4 linked regions of the Homo sapiens genome follow. The protein of the gene in region 1 purifies or fractionates together with the protein of each later gene. This does not show direct contact. Each region holds a gene or a part of one and is shown on either strand. Other genes may lie near its edges.

What was found.
Region 2: the proteins of UNKL (region 1) and TRPC4AP purify together in Homo sapiens (affinity purification with mass spectrometry; 2 studies listed by BioGRID and IntAct, with this or other methods). This does not show direct contact.
Region 3: the proteins of UNKL (region 1) and AHCYL2 purify together in Homo sapiens (affinity purification with mass spectrometry; 3 studies listed by BioGRID and IntAct, with this or other methods). This does not show direct contact.
Region 4: the proteins of UNKL (region 1) and PREPL purify together in Homo sapiens (affinity purification with mass spectrometry; 2 studies listed by BioGRID and IntAct, with this or other methods). This does not show direct contact.

What each region holds. Positions count from the first base shown.
Region 1 is NC_000016.10:1,369,693-1,376,716, reverse strand, and holds part of UNKL (putative E3 ubiquitin-protein ligase UNKL), read left to right. Parts: intron 1-5,105; coding exon 5,106-5,198; intron 5,199-6,359; coding exon 6,360-6,587; exon of another isoform or gene 6,588-6,710; coding exon of another isoform or gene 6,711-6,783; intron 6,784-7,024. UniProt on the Homo sapiens protein: May participate in a protein complex showing an E3 ligase activity regulated by RAC1. Ubiquitination is directed towards itself and possibly other substrates, such as SMARCD2/BAF60b. Intrinsic E3 ligase activity has not been proven.
Region 2 is NC_000020.11:35,005,798-35,012,821, reverse strand, and holds part of TRPC4AP (short transient receptor potential channel 4-associated protein), read left to right. Parts: intron 1-2,533; coding exon 2,534-2,635; intron 2,636-3,643; coding exon of another isoform or gene 3,644-3,656; exon of another isoform or gene 3,657-3,763; intron 3,764-4,074; coding exon 4,075-4,158; intron 4,159-4,954; coding exon of another isoform or gene 4,955-4,994; exon of another isoform or gene 4,995-5,174; intron 5,175-5,181; coding exon 5,182-5,272; intron 5,273-6,246; coding exon 6,247-6,387; intron 6,388-7,018; coding exon 7,019-7,024. UniProt on the Homo sapiens protein: Substrate-recognition component of a DCX (DDB1-CUL4-X-box) E3 ubiquitin-protein ligase complex required for cell cycle control.
Region 3 is NC_000007.14:129,403,009-129,410,032, forward strand, and holds part of AHCYL2 (adenosylhomocysteinase 3), read left to right. Parts: intron 1-370; coding exon 371-477; intron 478-2,088; coding exon 2,089-2,205; intron 2,206-2,827; coding exon 2,828-2,891; intron 2,892-3,369; coding exon 3,370-3,458; intron 3,459-6,467; coding exon 6,468-6,538; intron 6,539-6,849; exon of another isoform or gene 6,850-7,024. UniProt on the Homo sapiens protein: May regulate the electrogenic sodium/bicarbonate cotransporter SLC4A4 activity and Mg(2+)-sensitivity. On the contrary of its homolog AHCYL1, does not regulate ITPR1 sensitivity to inositol 1,4,5-trisphosphate.
Region 4 is NC_000002.12:44,358,480-44,365,330, reverse strand, and holds the start of PREPL (prolyl endopeptidase-like), read left to right. Parts: upstream 1-3,836; 5' UTR 3,837-3,951; intron 3,952-4,656; exon of another isoform or gene 4,657-5,615; coding exon of another isoform or gene 5,616-5,834; intron 5,835-6,851. Other genes in the region: CAMKMT (calmodulin-lysine N-methyltransferase), read right to left, coding at 3,186-3,323. UniProt on the Homo sapiens protein: Serine peptidase whose precise substrate specificity remains unclear. Does not cleave peptides after a arginine or lysine residue. Regulates trans-Golgi network morphology and sorting by regulating the membrane binding of the AP-1 complex.

The sequences.
Region 1 (7,024 bases):
CATGGGGGGGTCTTGGAATGTATCCCCCTGCTACAGATCGCAGGGTGCTACTGCAGGGTCCTCATAACCAGGTTAAAATGAGGCCGGTAGGGTGGGACCCTGAGCCAGTGACCAGTCTCCCTATAAGAAGAAACTTGGACAGACACTCGGAAGAGGTGGCCCCCAGAGCAGAGGCAGACACTGGAGCCACGCAGCTGCCAGCCATGAAGGAGGATGGACGCCAGGAGGAGGAGTGCACCCCAGCCCTGGAGGGAGGAGGAGTGTGCCAGCCCTGGAAAGAGGGAGGAGGAGCATCCCCAAGCCCTCAGAGGAGGGAGGAGGAGTGCCCCAGCCCTGGAGGGAGGAGGGAAGAGGAGCACCCCAGCCCTAGAGTGAGGGAGGAGGGAAGAGGAGTGCCCCAGCCCTGGAGGGAGGAGGGAGAGTGGAGGAGGAGCGTGCCCCAGCCCTGGAGAGAGGGAGGAGGAGCGCCCCAGCCCTGGAGGGAGGAGGGAGGAGCATGCCCCAGCCTTGGAGTGAGGGAGGAGGGAGGAGCATGCCCCAGCCTTGGACTGAGGGAGGAGGAGCGCCCCAGCCCTGGAGGGAGGAGGGAGGAGCGTGCCCCAGCCTTGGAGTGAGGGAGGAGGAGCGCCCCAGCCCTGGAGGGAGGAGGGAAGAGGCCCTGCCCGCCACAGATCTCACTTTCAGCCTTGGAGCCACCTGTCCAAGGCCGCTCAGTGCGTGGTCCTCTGCCACTGCCTGCAGTGTCTCGGCTCTGCTGCTCAGCACGACTTCAGTCAGGCTTTGAGGTCTTGCCCTCTTCAGCCATGGCCTGAGAACGTCAAGTGGATGACAGCGACCGGGAGGGCTGGCCCACCCTGCAGGCCAGGGTGGATGTCCGCTCAGGGACGCCACCGTCCTGTGAATGGGAAGGAGAGGAGTGAATGGCTCTGGGTGCGGCTGGCCCAAGGCCTGCCTTTGGCTCCGCCGATGAGCATCCTTGAGGGCTGAGGCATTTTCGGATGCTACTGTGGGTTCCTGGTCCCCAGGGGGTCTTGGCCTGGCTGCCCCGACCCCCAACCTGTTACTCTAGTTTCTGGATAAGACCTTCGAAAGTCCCTAAAAGCTTCATTGGAACGGTGTCTCCGTGGGAGTGGAGGCCACTCCCGCATGCGCCGTGTGCCGTCCCGGACGCCCCAGGGGTTCAGGTTCTCTGCCCTGGGCCCTGCTGCCTCTGTGACGGGATGGGGAAGGACAGTGTTGCCAGGTGGCGCCACAGCCCGGCCTCCACGCCCCGGAAATTCCCTCACGGCTGGCGTGTGGACGAGGGTTGAGTCTGGGTCGTGCTGTGCGGTGGAGTGGGGTGGGGGTGGCCTCTGCCTTGCGGCCTCTGGAGTCCACCGTCCACTCCCGAGCCAGGCTTCTCTCCCGCCTGCCGCTCTGGGTGGTGGAGCACGGTCTCCACACAGTGTGGCTGCTGAGCGCGGCCAGATTCGGGGTGAAGTTCAGAGGCCCGGACCTGCCAGCTGCGCCACGTCCACGCCAGCCTCTGCCTGTGCTCCGCTGGGGCCACCACCGCGGCACGAGGATACTCCGGCTGCCCTGGGGGGCTCGGGGGGTGTGACCGCCGAGCGCCAGGCCTCGGGCGAGGGGCCACCCGCCACCCTGTGGTTGCTCCCATGGTCCCCGTGGCGCTGACTGGTGCCAGCTGCTTCCAGGGAGGAGAAGCGGAGGCCTGGGCAGAGGGGTGAGGTGCAGGCCACGTGCCCCACAGCTGTGTTCCCGACAAATCTCATGTGCGGCTAGGGCAGCGTTCTTCTTCAGAAGTCACCCTCCTGCCTTTCCTGCTGATTATGCTGAAAATGTCTGGAAAGGCCCCAGCTGTCTTCCCCGGCAGAGTGGGGTTTTGTCCCTCTGCGGCCCCTTGGCTGCCGAGTCCTTGTTTCTCCAGCTGTTTTTTGGGATGCCCCCTGTGTGGTGAACCTGCTGTCACCCTGACATGGCCACCAAGTCCTGACGAGTCAGCCCTGCCTGGCTCAGCCAGCTCCCTGCTGGGTGGGGTGGGTTGTGGGGAGTGAGGCTGCAGGAGGTCTGCGAGGGCGGGACTCGATGTCGGGTAGGTGGGGCAGTGACCGCCTCTTTGCTTCTGCTGGGCCCCAGCTTGTCTGAACCGAGCACCAGGCAGGGGCTGGCCAGGCTGTGGAGGTTCCCGGCGCGCCGACCCCCACGGTCGGGTCTGACAGGTTTCCCCGGGGTGCGGTTGCCTGGGGCCATGGAGGGACCATCGGTCCCAGGTGAGGACAGGAGGAAGGGGGTCTAGGGCCCTTCAGGGACAGGCAGGGGTGGCTTTGCCTGTCTCAGAGCAGGCCTCAGCAGCACACTGTCCAGTACCAGGCATCAGTGAGGGTCCAAGAACTTGCAGCCAGCAGGGACGACAGGGCAGGGCCCCCCAGGAGAGACCCCACACAGCGCACATGGGAGAGTGGATGCCAAAGGTGGGCAGCGGGGAGGGCGCCTGCGCAACAGTCCCTGTGTGGTGTGCCCCACGCTGCTGAGGTCTCTGTGCGGTGTTGGCCGGCAGTCCCTGTGTGGTGTGCCCCACGCTGCTGAGGTCTCTGTGCGGTGTTGGCCGGCAGTCCCTGTGTGGTGTGCTCCACGCTGCTGAGGTCTCTGTGCGGTGTTGGCCGGCAGTCCCTGTGCGGTGTGCTCCACGCTGCTGAGGTCTCTGTGCGGTGTTGGCCGGCAGTCCCTGTGCGGTGTGCTCCACGCTGCTGAGGTCTCTGTGCGGTGTTGGCCGGCAGTCCCTGTGCGGTGTGCTCCACGCTGCTGAGGTCTCTGTGCGGTGTTGGCCGGCAGTCCCTGTGCGGTGTGTTCCATGCTGCTGAGGTCTCTGTGCGGTGTTGGCCGGCAGTCCCTGTGTGGTGTGCTCCACGCTGCTGAGGTCTCTGTGCGGTGTAGGCCGGCAGTCCCTGTGCGGTGTGCCCCACGCTGCTGAGGTCTCTGTGCGGTGTTGGCCGGCAGTCCCTGTGCGGTGTGCTCCACGCTGCTGAGGTCTCTGTGCGGTGTTGGCCGGCAGTCCCTGTGCGGTGTGCTCCACGCTGCTGAGGTCTCTGTGCGGTGTTGGCCGGCAGTCCCTGTGCGGTGTGCTCCACGCTGCTGAGGTCTCTGTGCGGTGTTGGCCGGCAGTCCCTGTGCGGTGTGCTCCACGCTGCTGAGGTCTCTGTGCGGTGTTGGCCGGCAGTCCCTGTGCGGTGTGCCCCACGCTGCTGAGGTCTCTGTGCGGTGTTGGCCGGCAGTCCCTGTGTGGTGTGCCCCACGCTGCTGAGGTCTCTGTGCGGTGTTGGCCGGCAGTCCCTGTGTGGTGTGCCCCACGCTGCTGAGGTCTCTGTGCGGTGTTGGCCGGCAGTCCCTGTGTGGTGTGCTCCACGCTGCTGAGGTCTCTGTGCGGTGTTGGCCGGCAGTCCCTGTGCGGTGTGCTCCACGCTGCTGAGGTCTCTGTGCGGTGTTGGCCGGCAGTCCCTGTGCGGTGTGTTCCATGCTGCTGAGGTCTCTGTGCGGTGTTGGCCGGCAGTCCCTGTGCGGTGTGTTCCATGCTGCTGAGGTCTCTGTGCGGTGTTGGCCGGCAGTCCCTGTGTGGTGTGTTCCATGCTGCTGAGGTCTCTGTGCGGTGTAGGCCGGCAGTCCCTGTGTGGTGTGCTCCACGCTGCTGAGGTCTCTGCGGTGTTGGCCGGCAGTCCCTGTGTGGTGTGCCCCACGCTGCTGAGGTCTCTGTGCGGTGTTGGCCGGCAGTCCCTGTGTGGTGTGCCCCACGCTGCTGAGGTCTCTGTGCGGTGTTGGCCGGCAGTCCCTGTGTGGTGTGCTCCACGCTGCTGAGGTCTCTGTGCAGTGTAGGCCGGCAGTCCCTGTGCGGTGTGCCCCACGCTGCTGAGGTCTCTGTGCGGTGTTGGCCACAACACTGGGCTGGGCTGGGGAGGCGGCGCCGGCCCACAGGGTGTATCCCAGAGCTCCTGCAGCCGCTGCGGTCCTCTGGTCTGCCCCAGGTGGCACGTGGGCTCTCAGATCCCAGATCCTCTGGTCACCCCTCACCCCCAACCCAACTTCTGTGCAGTGGCTGCGGGAGTTTGAGACACGCTGTGGCTTCAGGGGCTGGTGGCCTGAGCTCAGCCTCCTCATGATGGCTTCCTAATTCTAGGAAGGGGCAGTGGGGTCCCTGCTTGCCATTCGGGGTTGGGGGTGGGGACTTGGGAGGGAAGGGCCCGTGCAGGAGGGCAGCCCCACGGCCTGCAGGGATGTGTGGGGACAGCCTTGGAAGGCAGGGCTGGCTGGGTGAGGCCACTCTGAGGCGGGTCCTTCCCACTCAGTCTTGAGCCTTGGGAATTGAGGTCTTGGTGCTTGGCATGAAATTGCACGTGAACACCTGCTCCTTGAAATCACCCTCACAGAAAGTTTTTTTTTTGTTTTTGTTTTTGTTTTTTTTGAGATGGAATCTTGCTCTGTCGTCCAGGCTGGAGGGCAGTGGCACGATCTCGGCTCACTGCAAGCTCCGCCTCTGGGGTTCACACCATTCTTCCGCCTCAGCCTCCCGAGTAGCTGGGACTACAGGCACCCGCCACCACGCCTGGCTAATTTTTTGTATTTTTTTTTTTTTGGTTGAGACGGGGTTTCACCGTGTTAGCCAGGATGGTCTCGATCTCCTGACCTTGTGATCTGCCCACCTCGGCCTCCCAAAGTGCTGGGATTACAGGTGTGAGCCACCGCACCCGGCCCTGGAAAGTTTTTTAAACAGTCGAATGTGCACACGTGGACAGATGCTAACACACACTTAGGTATTTAAACTCTGAGGGGCAGCAGCAGCGTGTCAGAGGCGAGGACCCAGCTGCTGGTCTGTGGTGCGGGGCGTCCCACCTGAGCACGCTCGTTTTGCCGGAGGAACAGCCAAGCCTCACACTGCCTGTGGGGGGCTGCGAGGACGGGCTGGGGGTGTCCTTCCCTGGCTGCCCCAGCAACTCCCACGCCTTCTGCCCTTGGTCTCACTCTAAGCCCAGGTGGGACGGTCGTCCTCCTCAGCTAGGCTTCCTGAGCTCTGCAGCGCTGGGTGGGCTGTGGATGATGGGGGGCTCTGTTGACAGGTTCTGCGTTAGACCTGCATCTTAGCAATGTGAATATTGCATCCCTAGAGAAGGACCTGGAAGAGCAAGACGGCCACGACCTGGGAGCAGCAGGTGAGGGTGGGGAGGACCTGGGGCCCTGCTCCTCCAGCCGCTGAACAGCCAAGTGCTGTGGCCGGAGGATCGCTTGAGCCCGGGGAGGTCAAGGCTGCAGTGAGCTGAGGTTGCACCACTGCACTCCTGCCTGGACCACAGGGCAAGACCCGGTGTCTGGTTTTCGGAGCGGGAGGATCCCCTTCTGGCGGTACCTCCTCCTCCTCTCCCTGACTGCCTCTCCCTTTCCCTCCCCTGCACATGGACTCCTCAGCATCTCTCCTGCCTCGGGCCTGCCCACTTCTTCAGTTGACCTTTGTCCCAGCAAAGTGGCCGCGCAGAGACAGGCGGGGCCTTTCCTGAAAGTCTTGATGGTCCCCGAAGGATAAATGTATTCACATTGTAGACAAAAGATTGACATCCATACAAATGTATCTTTTTTTTTTTTTTTTTTTTTGAGACAGAGCCTCGCTCTGTCGCCCAGGCTGGAGTGCAGTGGCGCGATCTCCGCTCACTGCAAGCTCCACCTCCCGGGTTCACGCCATTCTCCTGCCTCAGCCTCCGGAGTAGCTGGGACTACAGGTGCCCGCCACCACGCCCAGCTAATTTTTTGTATTTTTAATAGAGACGGGGTTTCACCATGTTAGCCAGGATGGTCTCCATCTCCTGACCCCGTGATCTGCCCGCCTTGGCCTCCCAAAGTGCTGGGATTACAGGCGTGAGCCAGTGCGCCCGGCCCCATACAAATGTATCTTAACATCGTATACAACATCTTTTCATTCAGCCTAAAAGTGTATCTTTTCTTTCTTTTAAAAGAAAGTAAACCATTTCAGGGGGCCTGGACAAGTGCTGGGAGGACCGTGCCAATGGCTTAGTTGGCCGGCAGGGCCTGGTGGGTGTCCGGCCTCTTTGGGGGGGGCCCATGTTAAACCCCCGTCTCCCCACCTCTGGTTGGAATCCCTTTGAGCCCATGGCTTGCCCAGCTGTGTTGGACATGGCCACCGGGGGCGCTGTGGCTCCAAACACATAGATGGTGGTGGCTGGCCTGGCCCCTATATTCCCACCCCCCATATCCCCACCACCACCACCTGCAGGGTCCGTCTTCCACGGCTGCCGCCCATGGCAGATGTTTGGGCAGAGGCCTGGCGGTACTCCCTTCGCTGACTGGTCCGCCCCCGCCAGGTCCCAGGTCGCTGGCCGGCTCTGCACCTGTCGCCATCCCCGGCTCCCTGCCCAGAGCACCATCGCTACACTCGCCATCCTCTGCGTCCACCTCGCCGCTCGGTTCGCTGTCCCAGCCCCTCCCAGGGCCGGTGGGCTCCTCAGCCATGACGCCTCCCCAGCAGCCGCCACCCCTGCGTTCAGAGCCGGGCACACTGGGCTCTGCAGCCTCATCCTACAGCCCCCTAGGTGAGTGCCGGCTCCCTCCATGCTGGCGTTGCCGTGAAGCCTCCGTGGGGCTCCCTCCCAGATGCCGTCCTGACTGAGGGGCCTCACACGGAACCTTGTGCCCTATCTGTGGTGGCAAACCACATGACCTGCTGCTCACAGGTTCCCCCACGCCGCAGACCGAGTCTCGCTCTGTCGCCCAGGTTGGACTGCAATGGTACGATCTCGGCTCGCCGCAACCTCCGCCTCCCAGGTTCAAGCAATTCTCCTGCCTCAGCCACCCAAGTAGCTGGGACTACAGGCGGGCGCCACCACGCCCAGCTAGTTTTTGTATTTTTAGTAGAGATGGCGTTTCATCACGCTGGCCGGGCCGGTCTCAAACTCCTGACCTCGTGATCTGCCTGCCTTGGCTTCCCAAAGTGTGGGATGACAGTGAGCCACCGTGCCCGGCTATTTGT
Region 2 (7,024 bases), on another chromosome or scaffold:
CAGGCACTGCCCCAAGCTTTCTTCTAACCCTCATAGCCACCCCAGGAACTGAGTATGGAAGTCGTTGGCCCCTTACTACCTTTGGAATCAATGGATTTCTCAACCTACTGCCCCTCTAAAGCAAGAGTGGACAGCGTGGCTATTCCCAGGGGCCGGCAGGAACTTCAGACAGGCAAAGCCGACTGCTTACTGAGCAGCTGGAGGATTCTTCCCTCCACAAGGAGGTGTGCTCCCATTTTTCTTGAAAGACATTCTGCGCTCATTTATTTTTTAACCTTCGATGGAGAATGTACAAGGAAAATTACTCTCTGCTGTAAGGAAAACAGTGCAGGAAGGGGGTGACTAGCAGCTGACCCTTGACCTTGGCATTGGGGAGGTGATGTGGGGACCTTAGTGAACAAGAATTTCAGTGAGCTCAGCTCCAGCCAGCTGCGTGTGCACAGGAAACTGGGCCCACTGTTGCATAACTTCTGATTTTTTCTGCCAAGCAAAGGCAGAAATTAAGATTTATGTGAAAGGTCCTGATTTTAAATGTTGGTTTAAATATTTTAAAAACCTTGCATTTGAGCTAACAGAACATGCCTGGAGACAGCTGTGGCCCCAGGGCACCTCCATCATATGCACCCATCCTCTGTGAGAGGTTTTCCGGCTGAAAGCCATAGAAGGGCTCCAGGAAGCATGTTAACCTTCTGAAAAATGGCACCACATATGTTATGGAACTGTGCTGTTTTCCCTGAGGAAGTGAGTCTCTGGCTTTCATCAGACTCTTCAGTCTGAGTACTCTGTGGGATATCAGGATGAATGCAAACAGCCATGGCCCCTGCTCTCATGAAGGGCAGAGTCTGAAAACAGAGACAGTTGTTCATCCAAGGATTCCACCGTTGAGCATTAGTGATAAGTGGAGATGGTATTCAGGAGGAGAGGAACGGGGTCTGTGAGAGACATTTGACAGGGTCCAGGACTGGCCAGAGGACACTCAGGAACTCTCCCCTGCAGAAGTGGCTTGCCAGCCAAGACCTGAAGTGTCAGCTTGTAGTGAATTGAGTGAACAGGCATGTGAGAGGGTGTGTGTTCTAGCCAGAAGCCCCTGAACGAGGGAAGACCATTGTGGCCAGCTGATGGGAGTGATGTGGGCTTGGCTCTGGGCTGGGCTGCACAGGACGTTGTGGGTCACAGTCACAGGGTGTTGTGGGTCACAGTCACAGGCCTGGATTTTATATACAGATGGTCCACTTAGAATTTTTCAACTTCACAATGGTACAGAAGTAGAATTTTGAATTTTGATCTTTTCCTGGGCTCATGATAAACAGTTCAATACTCTTGCAATGCTGGGCACTGAGCTGCAGCTGCAGCTCAGAATGTATTTCAAGAAAAATGGTGACCAGCTACACGATCACCAAGGTAGACAACCAGTACTCTGTGCTGTGCCTGCCGTGTTGCCAGTGATTATGGCCAACTGTAGGCTGAAGTCAGTGTTCTGAGCACATTCCAGGTAGGCTAGGCTAAGCTAGGAGGTTCAGTGGGTTAGATATATTAAATGTGTTTTCTTTCTTTTTCTTTTTTTCAAGACGGAATCTTGCTCTATTGCCCAGGCTGGAGTGCAGTGGCATGATCTTGGCTCACTGCAACCTCCACCTTCTGGGTTCAAGCAATTCTACCTCAGCCTCCTGAGTAGCTAGGATTATAGGCGTGTGCCACCACGCCCAGCTAATTTTTTATATTTTTAGTAGAGATGGGGTTTCGCCACGTTGGCCAGGCTGGTCTCGAACTCCTGACCTCGTGATCCACCCGCCTGGACCTTCCAAAGTGCTGGGATTACAGACGTGAACCACCGCGCCCGGCCTCAATATGTTTTCAACTTAACGGCATTTTCAAATACGATGGGTTTATCAGGACATAACCTCCTCCTAAGTCAGGAAATGTCTGTTCTAAATGCAGTGGGAAGCTGTGGAAGTGTTTTCACCGGGAGTGACAGGATCAGAGTCCTGATTCTGAAGATCACTTTTGGCACCGTGTGATGACTCAGTTCCTGTGGGATACCTTTTAGTAAAGGGAGCTGGTGTCCTGGGAACACAGGACCCAGCAGTGACAGGCCTGGATGGCAAGTCGGGGGAAGTGTCACAGTTAACCAGGCCTCTGTGTGATGTGTGACCGTGGTGCTTGGTGGGACTGCTGCAGCAGGGCCAGGCTTGAGTGTGATTGGACCTGTTGAGGTGTTGGTGCCTTTGAGAAAACAAGTGGAAATGTAGGCAAAGAGAAAGGCCCAGAGCTGCTGAGGGAAGGGGCCTTGTCGATGAATGTGGCAGGCAGGGGTCGGGGATGGGGGTGGGGCCAGGGAGAGATTCCACTGCCTGAGAGCCCAGAGTTCCCTCCTGCAGGTGCTGGCTGGAGTGAGAGGTGCTAGAGGAAAGTGCCTGGTGGCTTCTCAGATTCTGTCCACAGGAAGTGGGCAGGAGACTCCCTACACTAGCCTGGTGCTGACCCAGCAGCCCCAGTTCCTGTCCTTTACCTCCTCCAACCCATTTTGTTTCAGGAACAAGTACTTGTTACTCAACAACCAGGAGCTGAATGAACTCAGTGCCATCTCTCTCAAGGCCAACATCCCTGAGGTGGAAGCTGTCCTCAACACCGACAGGTGAGTGCAGGGGTGCAGCTTTTCCCTCAGCCCATCCCGGCTGCCCACGTTCCCCGGGGGCTCACCGGTGAGCACATCCAGGTATGCACGCGTGTCCTCTCTCACATGCAGCTACAGTGTCCTGAGGGCTCCTGTGTGCCAGGCATTGTATTCATGTCACCTGCATTTTCTCATTGGAGCCTCACAGCAGCCCTAGGAGGGGAGCCCCATCAGTACCTGCACTTGACAGATGAGGTGAGCCTCAGAGAGGTCACCTGCCAGAAGTCATGTGTGCTCCGCACTGCCCCACCGCCTTGTCTCGTGCATTCAGCCCCTTTGCTTATGTGCTCCTTTCTTGCCTGGTGGCATCTGCAGCCAAGCAGGACAGACAGAAGCCTCTTACCTGCTGCCAAGTGTTAGGTTGCATTACCTGGGTTAGGTTTGCCTCACCTGGAGCCAGGCAGTGGGGGGCTAGTCTCACAGGCGTCAGAATACAGTGGACTTTATCCAACAAGAGCCATGATTTCCCAACCTTTTTTGTTTGTTTGTTTTGTTTTGTTTTTTAGACACAAGGTCTTGCTCTTTCTCTCAGGCTGCAGAGCAGTGGTGTTATAGCTCACTGCAGCCACAAACTTCTGAGCTCAAGTGATTCTCCTGCCTCAGCCGCCCGAGTAGCTGGGACTACAGGTGTGCGCCACCATTCCCAGCTAGTGTTTTTACTTTTTTTTTGTAGAGATGGGGTCTCACTATGTTGCCCAGGCTGGTCTCGAACTCCTGGCCTCAAGTGAGCCTCCCAAAGTCCAGGGATTACAGGTGTGAACCACCTCTCCTGGCCTCCCAATCTTTTTTTTCTAAGGTAGCAGAACTCTTCATTCAAATAAAATTGTACCCAGTCCTGCCCTGATGTCTGCAGTGGATCACAGCAGAGCTGCTCTGTTTGAAGGGCCCAGACCCCTGCGTGCCTGGCCGTCTTCCTTCCCCCATGACGGGGCCAGAGTCATTTCCTCATCTCCTGCCTTTGCTTCATAGACTGGGAAGCTGAGGCTTGGAGTTGTGGACACTTGCCCAAGGCCAGCTGGAAGTGAACCTCAGGCACGGAGTACGCTGGGCCTCACCCTATTGGCAGAGTCTTTCCCCATCTGGCAGACTGGCATGACCTGTTTCAACACACTTTTGGTATAAACAGCTCTCCTCTGGCAGTTCTAAGCCATGTCTGATTCTGGATATGTTTCTGGCCTGGGAAGGAAAGCTGGCCTGAGATGTGGTGGGAATGCACTTGGCAGTTTAATTCTGTGGCTGCAGGGGTCTCCGGGGCTCTGGACCCAGTTGGAGCAGGAAGGCATCCTGCAGACTTGGAAATGTCCCCATGGTTTTTCACCGCCTAAGCCAGCAGAATGACCCATCCCCAGGGCCCCTGTCAGCCTCTCAGATCTGTCACCAATATCTCTCTTCTATTTCAGGAGTTTGGTGTGTGATGGGAAGAGGGGCTTATTAACTCGTCTGCTGCAGGTCATGAAGAAGGAGCCAGCAGAGTCGTCTTTCAGGTGAGTCTGGGGAAAAGTACCTGCCGATTCTGCGGGGCTGCAGAGCCAGGTGTTTCTCAGGAGGTTAGGAATACCTCCTTTAGTCACCAGCGTCCATGCCTCCTGAAGCACAATTACTGTTGGGGAGAGGTGGTTTGACTGCCATCTTGTGTAGTTTTGACTCGACAGGTATGTGAGAGCTTCTTCTGCAGCCCACAGTGACCGAGCATTCACCAAGCACCTGTTCTGTGCTGGTGCCTTATGGGTGGGAGAGAACTAGGATACGGGCCCTGCCATGAATTCCCTAGAGCTGTGCTGTTTCAATGCAGTGTGGGAAGGAATGGAGCCAGGGTTGGCCCAGGAGCTATAGCAGCAAAGGAAAGCCTCTTCCGCTGCTAGGGCTGGGGGCTGGGTGAATACAGGGAGACCTTCTCTGAGGTCCTTAGATACATCTAAGATGAGTCTTGAAGTCAGTGGACAGGTAGAGTTCCATCAGGGCCGGGCGTGAGCTGTCAGGAGGCTTCATGCCCACATGGGCCTTTGTCACTTCAGTGCCTTGTCCAAACTCCCTGTCGTGGATACCCGCTGTGCCCTCTGGGTCCCTCGGTCAGCATCAACCACTACTTCCCTAGGCCAGCCCATCGTCTGTGAGCCCAGTGGCCTGTCTGCATGTGTTCGTCCGCTTCCCACACACATTCCTGGCCCCTCAATTGCACGTCCTCCCATTCTTGTGAAAGGGCAAGGCCTAGAGTATGTTTCACGGGGGCTCGCAGGAGCCAGCCCTTCGATCCCAGATGTTACCCTTTCTGTGACACAGCCCCTTCCAGACAGACCCAGATAGAAGACTTCTCCACTGAGCTGGCTCTCTGTGAGGATGGGGGCACTGCTGTGTCCCCAGGCCCAGGATGAAGCCTGATGCTTGGTAGATGTTCAGTAAATGTTGAGTACATGAAAAGGCAACAAACATCTCCCAACCCCTTGGAGAACTGAACATGGGCCGGAAGAGGGCAGCCTTAGCCACCTGAGCCAGTATTTGGGTCGCAGGTTTTGGCAAGCTCGGGCTGTGGAGAGTTTCCTCCGAGGGACCACCTCCTATGCAGACCAGATGTTCCTGCTGAAGCGAGGCCTCTTGGAGGTATGATCTGGAGCAGCCAGTGTCTTGGGTTCCGTCTCCCCCCAGCCCACGCGTTGCTGTGTCCTGTCCTGAGCCCCAAACAGTTCATCAGGAGCAGAGCAGATCTCGTGACTTCCAAATGCCTGTGCAGGCTGCCTTAGATTTTGCCCTGGGTTTCCAACTGTGGGTTCCCCATGGGTGCTTACGGGGTGACAGGTTTAGAGGGTGGCCAGGCCATGCAGGAGGGTGACAGTTTGGTTACCCAGCAAGGCATTTTGACCCTGAAGATATTTTGTACTAAAAGTTAATTTTCCTTTATTGAATAATGGTCTTCAGAAAAAGTAAAACTTAGAGCAGAATGGCCAAAGTTATAATTGGTCTTTCAGATTTTTTCATATGGACAAGAAACTGACCCACGAATTATAAAATCCATGTGGAAAAGAATTGATCCAAATCAATGTAACTTCAAGAAAATGTAGAAAACTTTATAAAGGAGTAAATTGGCTTTATTCTCTTGATGAAAACTCAGTATTTTGGTGTAAACTCTATTTAAACAATTTCGTTCATAAACACAAAGACAAACCATGGGGTCAAAATGTGTCCTTTGCTTTTAAATTCTGTCCTTCATTTACTTGAATGACCTCAGTGCTTAGGCAGTGGCCTGTGTTTTAGACCTGGTGATGACAGCTCCCCTCACCTAGGAGCTGAGCACCCCGGCCATCTTGGTGACCACAGAGCAGGTCACAGGCTTCAGCTGTACGCCCTGGGCAGGGGAGAGATTGTGCTGCATTCCCAGTCTGCTCCACCTCCTGGTGAGGTCTGTCAGGCCTGGTCCTGTCCTTGGAGCCACCAGCATCCTCAGACAAGAATCTAGACAGTGTTGCCAGTTCCATCCCCAGGATGCTTGCTCAAAGCCAATGCATGGTCTGAGCTCCATGCCAGGCCCTGGTGGGGGCAGCCACGTTGACACCTTCACCCTGTCCCTCCTCACCCAGCACATCCTTTACTGCATTGTGGACAGCGAGTGTAAGTCAAGGGATGTGCTCCAGAGTTACTTTGACCTCCTGGGGGAGCTGATGAAGTTCAACGTTGATGCATTCAAGAGATTCAATAAATATATCAACACCGATGCAAAGGTAAAGTTAACCCAGGGCTCTGTGGAGTGTGCTGGGTTGTCCAGAAGTTCACCTGGAGTCCTGGTCTGCCAGGCTTTAGGCACAGGTTTTACGTTAGAGACGACGGGGGAGTCTGGGCAGTCTTTGGCAAACATTCATTGGAACCTGCTCTGTCTGGCTTTGTGCTAGACCCTGGGAATGCAGGGATGAAAACCGGGGCTGCTTGTGGGTAGGGAGTGAGGGTGGGAATGGGTGGCTTGTGCGCCTGCCGTGACGCAGCATGGTGGGTGCCACGGTGGGAGCCGCTGTAGGGAGGGACTGGGCCTGGTGTGTTAGGCTCACCGAGTGTGTGTGACAGAAACCCAGCTCAGGCTAGCTGAAGTAAAATTAAAAGTAAAAATTAAAGGAATCCAGCACCCTTGAGCGTAAAACCACTGGAGAGAGTGTCGGATCTGTGCTGAATTCCGGGGAGTGCCTCTTAGTACCTGGGTGGTGAGGGGAGGTCCCTCAGCTTATCTGAGCCTCTGTCTTCCTATCTGAAGCAGTGGGGCTGGTAGAGGTCGCTGATGCCCCTTGTAGTGACTATCCCCCCGGGCCATGGCCATACCTGGCCAGCAGCCCACTGCCTGCTGTGAGCTTGGTTTCTGTATAGTTCCAG
Region 3 (7,024 bases), on another chromosome or scaffold:
TCCCTTTAGGCTTTCTGAATACCTATAGTAGATTCAAGATCTAGTGGCCTAGTAACTACAAGTTACCAATCCATAAGAAAATCCTCGGTTAGTTGCTGTATATTTTGATACAGTAGATATGTCACGGGGAGGGTCGTTTGGCTGCGCGAATTACAATTGGCCTTTCTCCTCTCATTGTCTTTTACTTCAATATAATGACTATTTGGCAGATTATTGTATTTACTCTGGCTTTAAGTTACTTTGCATAACCATATGGGAAATTTTAAATATCTGTAAATTGCTAATTAGATTGGGATGCAAGACCCAGAGAAGCACTGAAGCCTTGAGACTTCAGCAAAGTGAATGATGTTATTGATGCTTACTATTGCAGATCTTGGATGATGGAGGGGATCTTACCCACTGGATTTATAAAAAGTATCCCAACATGTTTAAGAAAATCAAGGGCATAGTAGAGGAGAGTGTTACTGGAGTTCACAGGTAAGATTTGACATGGGCATACCTGGTTTTATGCAGTCTAGACATAAAATCTTATAAACACATACCTATAAAACACATGTTAAAAATTGGAGCCTGGGCCAGGCGCGGTGGCTCACGCCTGTAATCCCAGCACTTTGGGAGGCTGAGGTGGGCGGATCACGAGGTCAGGAGATCAAGACCATCCTGGCTAACACGGTGAAACCCCGTCTCTACTAAAAATACAAAAAAATTAGCCTGGTGTGGTGGGCGCCTGTGGTCCCAGCTACTCGGGAGGCTGAGGGAGGAGAATGGCATGAACCCAGGAGGCGGAGCTTGCAGTGAGCAGAGATCATGCCACTGCACTCCAGCCTGGGTGACAGAGCGAGACTCCATCTCAAAAAAAAAAAAAAAAAAAAAAAAAAAAAAATTGGAGCCTGCTATGAGGTAACCACATCTCAGCTTGCTATGAGGTGACCAGATCTCAGCTTGCTATGAGGTGAGCAGATCTCTCTTGTTTTTTTTTTTTAATTAACAACACAAATAATGAACCTAAAATAGTGAGAAGGGGGCAGGTGGGAGAACAAGTGAAGTCCTCATGTTTTCTAGTGATTGTAAACAATTAACTTGTCCTTTTTGGACACATATATTCATTCATTCATTCAACAAATATTTATTGAACTTCTACAATGAATGAGGAACTGCTCTAGATGCTAGGAATCTAGCAGTAGACAAAACAGACAGAAAAAAACTCTGCCATCTTAGAGCTTACATTCTTACATGGAGAGCAAGGATGTAGGGTTCTGCTTCTCAAATGAGTAATAATTCTCTGAGTAAAATTGGAATTATTTCAGTTCAATTTCTGTGATCATTTCTATGATTTATTTCACCCATAAAGAACTAAAAGTATGAAAAAAAAAAGTTGTAGGGAAGTAAATTCTGAACCAGCCACCATCACTGCTTCAATACATTATCATCTTTTTGAATGTACAAAACTGAGGTCAGGAGTTCAAGACCAGCCTGGCCAACGTGGTGAAACCCCGTCTCTACTAAAAATACAAAAATTAGCTGAGTGTGGTGGCGGGCGCCTATAATCCCAGCTACTCAGGAGTCTGAAGCACAAAAATCGCTTGAACCCTGGAGGCAGAGGTTGCAGTAAGCTGAGATCACACCATTGCTCTCCAGCGGGGACAACAAGAGTGAGACTCCATCTCAAAACAAACAAACAAACAATAAAAGCACAAACAGCCAGGCGTAGTCTCATGCACTTGTAGTTCTGGCAGGCAGGGAGACCAGTGCAGATTTAGTGAACATTGTACCTAGTAGGTAATTTTTCAACCTTCAACCCGCTCCCACTCTCCCACTTTTTATAGTCTCCAGTGAAGGCCTTAAAATTTAGAGGTGGGTCAAGGATTTCCCCCACATGACTTTTGAATAAAATCTTTATTGTGAAGCTATATATGCAGGCTCTAGAAAGATATTCTTTATTTCTCAGTGGCCACCTAACAGGATGAAACTAGTCATGTCTCATGGTCTCATGCCTACCCAATCAACGTATTTCTGGGGCCTCCTATGAAAGCAATGGTAGATTGTAATGTCCTGGTGTTTTTTGTTCTTGGCTTCCCTCATCCTCAGGCTGTACCAACTGTCCAAAGCTGGGAAGCTGTGTGTTCCAGCCATGAATGTCAATGACTCAGTCACCAAACAGAAATTTGACAACCTCTACTGTTGCCGTGAATCAATTCTTGATGGGTAATGTTTATTATCTTTGAGATGAAGTTGTGATGTCCAGTTGAGATTCTAAGTTTTTTGGCTTTGGTTATTTCTGGAAAGGATTCATGTAGCACCTCTGGATAATGTCTCCATAAAGCCAGAGCTTTGTCACCTCATAAATTAAAATTACATTATTTTTATTTTCTCCTTTGTATCTTTTCTATTTCTAAATATTATATTTTCAAAATATTATCTAATAAATGTATGTTGCTTTTATGTTTAAAAGTTACTGTGTTATCTACATCTTCTTCCTTTCTGCACCACTTGCAAGAAAGGGGAAAAAAAAAGGAAAAAAACCCTTACATATAGGATTGGTTAGATGGCAGGGAGTGAGAAAATATGTATTTTATTTAACCTTCCTGTCTGGTCATTAGTTTCTCTAGGATAGAAACCAGACTTTCAGTGTTACAGGTCTTTTAGAATTTGTCTAGCAGGTTTTCTGGTCTTTACCAGAAAACCCCTTTAAAAAAATAAAGAAACCAGACTTTCTTTCAAAATGAAAAACCAACCAAAAAACCCCATGAAAACAAAGAGATTCAATCTAACCTCAAGGGAGAAACAAGAGAAGATTTTTCTGATTTAATGTTTTTTTTTCCCCTAGACTTAAAAGGACAACAGACATGATGTTTGGTGGAAAGCAAGTGGTAGTCTGTGGCTATGGAGAGGTGAAGTTTAACCTTTTGTTTATTAGGTGTTTTAAATGGATTTTGTTGAAATATTCTGGAATTTTTTATTTGTATGGACATATGAGTACACCCTTTACCACTTTAGATGAGAAAAAGAATTTCAGAGGCCTTCTGGTTGAAGTAGACTTTCTTTTTCCCTTTGCGTTGCCGCCATTTTCCCTTAAGTTGATTTTCTGACTTGCTCCAGTACCACCGTTTGTGATGTTCTTTTTAGCTTGTGTTTTAATTATGAATCGTGAGTGTGGGTGTTCTTGTGCACATGAATGCGATAAGCAGGAGCCAGGGGTTTGTTTATGAGCTGCATTCAATTATTTGTTCTTCTCGTTTTCCCCAAGTATGAATCTATTCAGTGAAATTCCTCTCGGGGGTGGAAAGAGGGGGTGCACTTTACCAGAAGCTTTGAGAAATGGTTTTCTCAGTGACTTTCCTTAATATGTGTGCTCTCTCCCCTCTTCAGGTGGGGAAAGGGTGCTGTGCTGCCCTGAAAGCCATGGGCTCCATTGTGTATGTAACTGAAATTGACCCCATCTGTGCCCTGCAAGCCTGGTAAGCCTCTACGCTACCATCTCACTTGCAATCTCGGAGCTGTCTCCAAAGAATGGCCTGGTTGATGCCACACTTTATTTTAGAGGAGCCCAGATCCTCAGAGATGCTGCCACTAACTCTAAGCATCTGTCTTTTAAAAAGGTCAAGGAGCTCTGCTTGGAGAGAGCAGAGACTATCAGAAAAGCGAAAATTTAGAAATCCTGTGGAGATAGTAACAGGGATTCTGTCAGCCAGAGAACAGGTAGCCCCTTACCTTCTCCATGTATGATACTTGCCTTTCAAATAATGATCAGAAAAGAAATTGGCAGGCATCAGATGCCTTCTGATGTGTTACACTGAAAATAGCCCTTCTGTGGTATTCCTCCCAAAAATGTATAACCTGAATCTAATTGTGAGGAAACATTAGACCAATCCCAGTTAAGGGTAAAATCTACTAACTCTGAGTGAAGCATATATGAGAATTATTTACACTAGTATTATAATTCTTAAGTTTGAAATGATTCTAAAATTAAAAGTTAAAACTTTTCTTATCTATAAAATGTGTGTAATCATACCTACCTCATAGGATTGTGAGAGTTCAGTAAAATAATAATTAGCATAGGCTGGGTGTAATGGGTTCATGCCTGTAATCCCAGCACTTTGGGAGGCTGAGGCAGGAGGATTGCTTGCGCCCAGGAGTTCGAGACCAGCCTTGGCAACATAGGGAGACCCCATCTCTACAAATAATTTTTTTAAATTAGCTGGGTGTGGTGGTGCATGCCTGTGGTCCCAGCTACTTGGGAGGCTGAAGTATGAGTATCACCTAAGCCTGGGAGGTGGAGGCTGCAGTGAGTTGTGATTATGCCACTACGCTCCAGCCTGGGTGACCCAGCAAGACCATGTCTCAAAATAATTATTATTCTATATTATACATTATATAACAAATACATAATTATATAAGGTACAGAGCTGCTGCCACATAATATATGCTCATTAAATAATAGCTGTTATTAAAATTGTCTCTTGCCATCCTCAGCAGGGTGGGAAATACCACTGTTCTTAAAAACTATTGCAGAGTCCAAGTGTCTGTAGCCTAGGGGAACCATCATCCTTCTGGTACACTAAGAGTTTAGGAACCTGAACATATTTTAATACAAATTGATACTGTTCAGATACTGAACAGTTCAGATTATCCTGTTCAGATTATCCTGTAGACACGAATTGATCACTTACTATGCATTAGATACTGTGCTATGTGCTGAGAATGAATAAGATGAATATATAAATGAGATAAGGTCCTGCTTTTAGAAGCACACAGACAGATAACCACTGTGCAGCAAAGTAAGTGCTGTCATGGAGTTAAACGGCACATGCTTCTGTAGGAGCATAAAGGAGAAATTGCTTACTGAAGAGCAAGGGAGCAGGGTAGAAAGAGATGTCAGCAGAGCTGAGTCTTGACATTTGTATAGGTGTTTTCTTAGTTTGGAAGTATATTCCAGGTACTGGGAACATGTGTGTTGTCTCCAAGGAAGGAGATAGCATGGCAGATTTAAGAAGCTAGAAATATTTTAATGTAGTTGGCAGATGAAATACATTTGGGGGAGTGGTACTATCTAAGGTAGGAGTCATGGGAGTCATATGTCAATATAATCACATATCACTGTAAGTATTTGGGTCTTACTCTTATCCTGTCTTATCCTTAAGAACAGGCAGTCTCACTGAAGTATTTTAAGGAAAGGAAGCGACATGATCCAAATTGCATTTAGGAAAATCACTCTGCCAAATGATTTAGAAAGATGTAAACCTAGAGGCAATGAGATTGGGCCAGGGGTTACTATAGTAATCTAGGCAAGAAGTAATAAGACCTAAACTTAAGCAAGGCCAGTATGTATTAGAGAAGAGTAGAGAGATGAAAGAGACGTTTATGGAATTAAAGAAAAAGAGTCACCCAGATTTGGTGACAACTTCAATTCAGGAGAGGCAGCAAGGACATTCTTGTTTATATGGCTCATTCAGTTGGATGAACAGTGATGCTATTGATCAAGATAGAAAATATAGAAGAAGAAATAGATGAGATTATGGGTGCAGAGAAAATAATAAGTTTATTTTCAAACACAGTAAGTTTGAGATCCTTCTGGGACATTGATGAGGTGCTATCCAGTGGCTAATTTGATCCTTGGCTATGAAGCTTCAGAGAGATCTAAGCTAAAGTTACAAATGTAAAAATCAGCCATCTATCAGCAGTCATTTGCAGCCAAAGGAAGAGTATGGTTCTCTATACTGAAAGAATAGAGAAAAGAATAAAGGCATAACCCTGCAGAGCACCAATATCCAAAGGTTGGCTGAAGTTGAGGAGAGGCAATTAAGAGAAGTAAGAGGAAAACCAGGAGAGATGTATCATGGAGTCCAAGGGGTATAGAGTTTTAAGAAGGCAAATAATGTTTAATGTAGTAGAAGAAATCAAATAATATAAGAGTCTAAGAAGTTGGGCATGGTGGTGTATGCCAATAGTCCTGGCTACTCAGGAGGCTGAGGCAGGAGGATTGCTTGAGGCCAAGAGTTAGAGGCTGTAGTGCACTATGATTATGCCTGTGACTAGCTACTGCACTCCAGCCTGGGCAGCATAGTGAGATCCCATCTCTAAAAAAAAAAAAACACACACAGTTAAGAGTCTAAGAAATCTTGGGTTTGGCCTTCGGGGGATCACTGATGATCTTGGAGAGAGCAGTTTCAATGGGGTAGTTGGTTAAATGGCTAAGTGGCACTTTCTACAGTTTCTAGAAATTTGGTCAGGGAATCTCATGGTAGCCCCTGGCTCCCTATTATCAGGAAGAAATAAGTTCCGTGATGCAAACGAACCTTTTATTTCTGTCTTGTATGAACTAAGGAAATTGTTTGGATTTTTCACTTCTAAGAATAGTTCAGCTATCTCAAGAAATGACAGCAACTTGATATTAGCTTTTGAAGTCCTGTGTTAAAAGGCTCCCCAGCTGCCTGTTTAGGTTAATGGGTCATGCTTTATTTCAACAGTATGGATGGATTTCGACTGGTGAAATTAAATGAGGTCATCCGACAAGTGGACATTGTTATTACCTGTACAGGTATGATAATGACATTTTAAATGGGGTGGCACTTGGGAATGTTTTTATGGAGCAGGTGCAAGATGATTGGAAATATTCTGAAAAACCAAACTCTAAAAGCTAGAGAGAGATAGTAGCCCACAAAGCCAGCCAGTCTTTCACATTCTTCCTAATTCTTTAGAGCTCCGACCAAAGGTATACGATTAGGTTATTCCTATGTAAAAATGTTTCTCTTCACCCTTGAAGACAACTGTTATATCTCCATTCATCCTAGGAGATAGCTAGAGATGAGATTCACTTATAAAGTTTTATTTGGGAAGCCAGATATTTTTTTTTTCCAAAAATATATTTATTTTTAAAAACAGAAAATCAGATCAGTTTTATAGAGTCAAATTTTCAAGAGACAAACCAGAGTTTGGATTCCAGCTTAGAGTGCAAGTGAAGCATCAGTAATCTCATGCAGAAGATTTGTCTCTGCAGGAGGTACATTCTGCTTGACTGCAAGCA
Region 4 (6,851 bases), on another chromosome or scaffold:
TATGTTTTGTTAATTACAAAACACAGAAAATACTGAATAGTTAACATAAAGTAAAAGGCCATGAGACAGCCTTGGAGCTCTATAGGGTAATGGAAAGACAGAATTTTAAAGGAAAAAACAAGTAGACAGAGCAGATGTTCTTCAGATGTCCCACGAGCGAGAAAAGGAGTCACATATCTCTAGCACTGCTTAGATTCCTTATAGTTTTCCAGTACTAGATGCATATAGGATAGGAATGGTTCATTCATTTGAAATACATTTACTAAGAGCTTGTAAATGTTTAATATATGTGATCGATTAAATTGTAATAGAAAAATATTCACTTCCTCTTTGTCACCTCCAAGGAAGGAGTTGTATTTCCCTGCCCCTTGAATTTGGCCTTTGCCAAATATCTTACTTTGGCCAATAGGAAATAAACACATGATGTGAGCAGGGGTTTAAAATGTGTCTCTGTGGTTGGGCTTGCTCTTATACCTCTGCTATCACCATGAGGACTTCAGCCCACTAGTCCAAAGATTAGAGACATATGGACCACATGTGCATCATAGAGATACCCAGATGACTACAGCCTATGTCGGTCAGCTCCCAGGTGGCCCCCAGATGCACCAACAAAATAAATACTAACTGTTGTATGCCACTGTGATGTTGCGGTTCTTACTTAGCAATAGCTTACTGATAAAATACACTAAGGACTAGGTGCTATGCGCCACTTAAAGACTGTCCTTACTCTCAGGCTTTCCACAGACACTGAACAACATCTACTAAAAATCAATTAACCAGGCCCTGTGCTAGGTGCAGAGGATGTAAATTAATAAAACATCACCTTTTCCCAGGGTGAATGCCCATTCTAGTAAGAAAAAGAGACCCTGATCACATGATCATAAAATAATATAAAGGGCTCATTGGTAGAGTTGGCTGAGGGTCTAACTTAGCCCAGAGGCATTAGGGGTGGCTTCACAGAAGAGTAGTTTGAAATGGAAGTGTGAAGAATGAACAATCATTCACCAAGTAGAGAAGATAAAAAGACTATAAGCAGGCAGATATATACCAAAAGTTTCGATGTCAGAACGTGTGGGGACTTCATGTAACAGCCACAGCTGAAACTTGTCACTGTTTTCATTTAGACCGCAATTTAGAATGAACATAAGTGCTGTAGTTTTTACTATACTGAGAATCACTGAAAGCCAGGTATCATGGCATACCCCTGTAATTCCAACTACTCAGGAGGCTGAGGTGGGAGGATTGCTTGAGCCCAGGAGTTACCTGCCTGGGCAACAAGCAAGACTCTATCTTATTTAAAAAAAAAAAAAAAAAAAAAAGGAAGGGTGGGGGCGGTGGGCGTGGCAGGCATGGTGGCTGATACCTGTAATCCCAGCACTTCGGGAGGCGAGGCAAGTGAATCACCTGAGGTCAGGAGTTTGAGACCAGCCTGGCCAACATGGCGAAACTCCGTCTCTACTAAAAACACAAAAATTAGCTGGGCGTAATGGCGAGCACCTGTAATCCCAGCTATTCGGAAGGCTGAGTACGGGAGAATTGCTTGAACCAGGGAGGCGGAGGCTGCAGTGAGCCGAGATTGCGCCATTGCACTCACGTCTGGGCAACACAGTAAGGCTCTGTATCGAAAAAAAAAAAAAAAAAAGAAGGGGGTTGCCGGGCACGGTGGCTCATGCCTGTAATCCCAGTACTTTGGGAAGCCGAGGTGGGTGGATCACCTGAGGTGGGGAGTTCGAGACCAGCTTGACAAACATGGAGAAACCCCGTCTCTACTTAAAAAAAAAAAAAATTAGCCAGGCGTGGTGGTGCATGCCTGTAATCCCAGCTACTGGGGAGACTGAGGAAGGAGAATCATTTGAACCCTAGAGGCGGAGGTTGTGGTGAGCGGAGATGGCAGCCATTGCAGTCCAGCCTGGGCAACAAGAGGGAAACTCCATTTCAAAAAAAAAGGAGGGGGGAAGGGGGGTTGAGTCCACTCTCCCCAGCTCACGCCAGATCTCATTTCAGTGGTCACTATTAAAAAAAATTAGATATTTACTTTATTATAGATACTTCCTATGATGATCTGTGAGGACATGCATTTTCTTATCCTGTAATACCATTTGTAACAATAGCAAAACCAGATCATTACTGGTCTGGAAAGACTGTCAATGTATCAGCAAATAAATCTTAATTAACTCTGATGATCTACTTAACTCATAACTCTAAAAGCACTAAAAGACCACTGTATGAAAAGGTGACTCAAGGCAACTGCAAACAAAGTGATCCCCAAAATACTAAAAGCACAATCTCAAGTAAAGTGGCAATAGCTGGGAAACTCTTTTCCAAACACAACTGTCAGAAATGGAAAAATGTCCTCCTGAGTAAAGTTTTCGGCAGAAAACTTCAGGCAGAGGCATAACACTGCTATGCAAAAACAATAACCAGACTTCACTTCAAGAAGTGAGCGAAGAATGTGAGTGATCATAAATCAGAACTTCCGTCAAGCTTGCACGAGTGGAGTTGTAAGTAACAGCAGAAACTTTGAAGTACCAGAAGATACCATCATTCAAAAACGAACACACTTTGACTAGCCCACCTTGGACACGGAGAATCTCGCTGATCACTACAAACTACAAGATAATCATTTAACTTTGAGACCTCAGTGAGAGAGGGTATCAGCTTTTCCTACTCCTTGCACGCTCCGCTGTACGGAAGATGCCGAGGGAACGCATGCCGTGTCTCAGTCCCGGCATAGTCAACCACGCTGGGCAAAAGACGGGGCCAGAGGGTGCAGACGAATATCGGTAACTCGAACCAGGCTGGGAGTTAAGCTAGAAGAAACTGGGGAAGGAGGCAAAACAGAAGCAGGAAAAGAGCAGTGGGGAGCGGCGGGCGCACCAGAGACTGGCGAGAAGGGGAAAAGTCCCCCAGACGCACAAAAATGTCTAGAAGGGGTTCTTCTACTTCGATCTGAGTTTCCCAGGAGCTCAGCCTTGGCTGTCCCGCTCCCCACCCAACCCCACATGATTCCTCCTCTTGGATGGGACGCTTAGGTGAAGCGAGGGGGAGCTTCGCAGGTGGCTCCCGGCAAACTGAGAAGGGTCTCCCAGAGCTGCCAAGAGGAAAGAACTGCGAACAGTCGCTCCCCCGGTACGTGAGAGAGGAGTGACCAGAGGCAAAGGTGAGGCGAGCAGGTTCTCCCTTACCTGCCGCAGGAGCTTCCACCGGGCGGCTCCCAGGGGCGCCGAGACTACGGGCCCCCGAGTGGTGCAGCCAACTGCCGGACTCCCGCCCGCTGCTCGCGCGGTCTCGCCGGTCCCAGCGTCCGCGACTCGCGACTCCATCTCACTGGAGCCTTCCACACCCGGAGGTGCCACCGCCGCAGCTCGTCCCCTGCCAGGACCTGCCAACTTCTTCCCTGTCAGGACCTGTGACGCCCGGCACCCTCCCTCCACCGGACCAGGCATGCGCGCTCTCCCCGAATTCCGCATTTCCGGTACTCGCATCTCCTTGGCAACCAGGGCCGAGCTGTCACGCCATTGCACCATTCTTGCTGGTAGCCATCTTGAGTGAGGGCGGACCAGAGGATGAGAGAGCTGTGGCAGGGCTACTGGAACGCTGTCCCTCATTGTTTTAGCCTTCTGTGCTTCATCTCGAGCTCAGAAGACTAGCGAAGAACGAAAAGTCTTATATATTTCGAGACTAAAGAACCCAGGAACCCAAGAAGACTCCTTGACCACAACAAAGATGGCGAAATCTGCCTGTTGCTCGTGCTAGATTGAGGTTACGTAGATTGGCGTGCTGCAAACCAGCTCTAGGCGGCTCTGGGTAAGTTGTCGTTCTGTGGGCTGCGGAACGCAGACTTCGGCTGGACTTGCCTGCGGTGACACCTGCTCCCCTCTGAGAGCTTCAGGTTCTCCGGCCTGCCTTCACTGGTTTGTGTCCAGAGCCGGACTGATTCTCTCAATTTGCGTATGTATGGGGGGTGTGCTGGTCTCTTTCCTTCTCCCCTTTCTCCCCCCGCCCAGCCACCCACCCCTCAGTCCCCAGGTCCTCGCTTTTTGACTAATGTCCCGGCACTGCGTGCGTGTCACCTGGTCCCTCTCCCTGTTGCATTCAGATCGCCTCATCCCTGGGGTGGAGAGTTGCACGGGGTAAACGAATAGGTTCTCCTGAGAACACCCATTTATCTACCCCACCCCCATCCTAGCCTTGCATACTGTCTTCTTGGGGATGAAAGATGGATGGATAAAGGCTGTGGGAACGTGGTGATGTAGGACCTTTGCAGGTCCTTGTTATTCGGGTCTTTTTTCCCCTTTTTTTACTAGTGTCGGCTAGTAAACTAGTGTTGCTCCCCTACCCCCAATCGCCCATTATTTTGCTGCGACATGGAAAGGGATTAAGGGGGGCGGGGGCGTCGTAGCGCATCTGATCTATGGTAAATTTGACGCAGCATTCTACCTTTGATACCAGGGGGCATTTTGTGGAAGACTTCCATAATGACATTCAGCGGTGTGCAACATACCTAGATTATTCCTGTCGTAAATAATAGCAACTGCCATTTATTGAGTGGTCACTATGTGCCAGGCACTGTATGGTCTTAATGTTAAGCTGTCTCATTTTGTCTTTACAACAACAACCCTAGAAGGTAAATGGTGTCATTTCATTTTTGCAGATGAAGAAACTGAGGCCCGGAGACACAGTTAAGTGTAGGAGCTAAGACCTCAACCCAGGTCTCTCTGACTCTTAACTACTTATTAGCAATCAAGGTTAATAAAAGCTACCTCCTGACAAACCAGAGATGGCCTTACATTTTATTTGTGCATCTTGCAGGGGTTTTTTGTTGTTTTTAATTAAAGCGCTAAATACCTTTTTAACATTAAAAATCCGAAGTTGAGTATGTCCAGTATTTGGAACCGAACCAAATTGGATTTTTTGCTATACAGCTTACTGTACAAGTGACCTGGAACAGTTGCTTAGAACCTCCCACAGCCACAGTTTGGCAACCTGTAAAATGTGCATGGTAATATCTACTTTATTAAGTCCATATAAAATTTAAATTAGACAAACAAGATAAAAGCACCTGGCAGTTAGTTAACACTCAACAATAATTAATCTTCCCTCCCCCACCTTTATTAAATAATTAGGCTTTTCCAGTTTATCTTCCACATATATACCAAAGATACGTTCATAATTATGTAAGACCAAAGGGCTTTTTACCTTTTACAGCCCTGAGTTCCTGAGATACCCCATTAAGTCTGTGTACTTATTTGCAAATTTATATTTTGTTTCTTGTTTTGTTTTTTGTTTTAGTTTAACCCCTATGTGTGCCAGAGTCAGTGCTGCATAGTTTGAGCCTGATAGGATTAACTTTACAAATGAGACATTTAAGTCACATCTGCCAAGAATTATGATTTGAATGAAACTTTAACTTACACAGGTTTTTAGATTTAGTTAGCCTAAGTTATCAGCTGTCTGAAGTTATTCATAACCTAAGTGGGGCATGGCCCTGAAAAGGAGGGATGAGAACTGCTGATCTTAGTTACTCTGAGAACCCACTACTCTGTAATCATACCTATAAAATCATTCGTGTGCTGGCAGCCCCAAAAGGAGCATAAACCAGGGACTTTGATATCATGCAGCAGAAGACCAAATTATTTCTCCAAGCTTTGAAGTATAGTATTCCTCACCTTGGAAAATGCATGCAGAAACAGCATTTGAATCACTATAACTTCGCTGATCATTGTTACAATAGAATAAAATTGAAAAAATATCACCTAACCAAGTGTCTTCAGAATAAACCCAAGATATCAGAGTTAGCAAGAAACATCCCAAGTCGGAGCTTCTCATGTAAGGTATGGACTGTTTAAGTTAACCTATTTGTAGGTCATTAAGATTAATTTTAATTTAAAAATAAAGAATGGGTAGAATATCAGAGCTACTAATTTTCTCAGTAATTCTAACTTGATTTTTCTAATTTTCAAGTCTCAATTGTCTCTAGTCAAAAGTAAGTATAAAAGAGTATATACATCGAGGCAGGCAGATCACCTGAGGTCAGGAGTTCGAGACCAGCCTGGCCAACATGGTAAAACCCTGTCTCTACTAAAAATACAAAAGTTAGCTAGGCGTCATGGCACCCACCTGTAATCCCAGCTACTTGGGAGGCTGAGGCAGAGAATCTCTTGAACCCAGGAGGCAGAGGTTGCGGTGAGCTGAGATCGCACCACAGCACTCCAGCCTGGGTGACAGGGAGACTCTGTCTGAAAAAAAAAAAAAAAAAAAAAGTGTATACATATATTTATAGGGCTCTAATGTAATATATAAAAATGTAGGTTTATAAAAAATGATTCACCTCAGGACTTCCTTAGTATGCCTGCCAGTGCATTTCAAAGTATAATTCGGCCTTCTAAATTTCCTAGAACACTAAATTATAGCTCTTAATAAAATCTAATGATACGCTAATTGTTTTATGAATCACAAATCAGTAAACTTCAGTAAAGGCCATGAATTGTATTTTATTTCTCTGTAAAAAAATGAAAAATAATCTTGCGTTTTTGACCACTTGAGTCATTCAGGAAGACACTGTCAGAGTATTGTACTTCTGCCAGACCCCAAGCTGTGGGCGTGAACTCAACCTTAAGGACCTGATTGCCCTTATATAGAGAGTAACCACATAACCACTTTTGCCTGGCACAGCTCCAGCCTACACCTGTTGTCCCTGTGTAATTATTAATAGTGTCCCCTTTCCTCTCAAAAGTGTCCTGGTTAGAATGGTAAATTATATGGTCATCCTACAGTAAGTAGGATTAAATGATCTATTTGTGCTGCTGCTGCTTTGACATCCCTCTCCTACCTTTTACTTCTTATGTTCC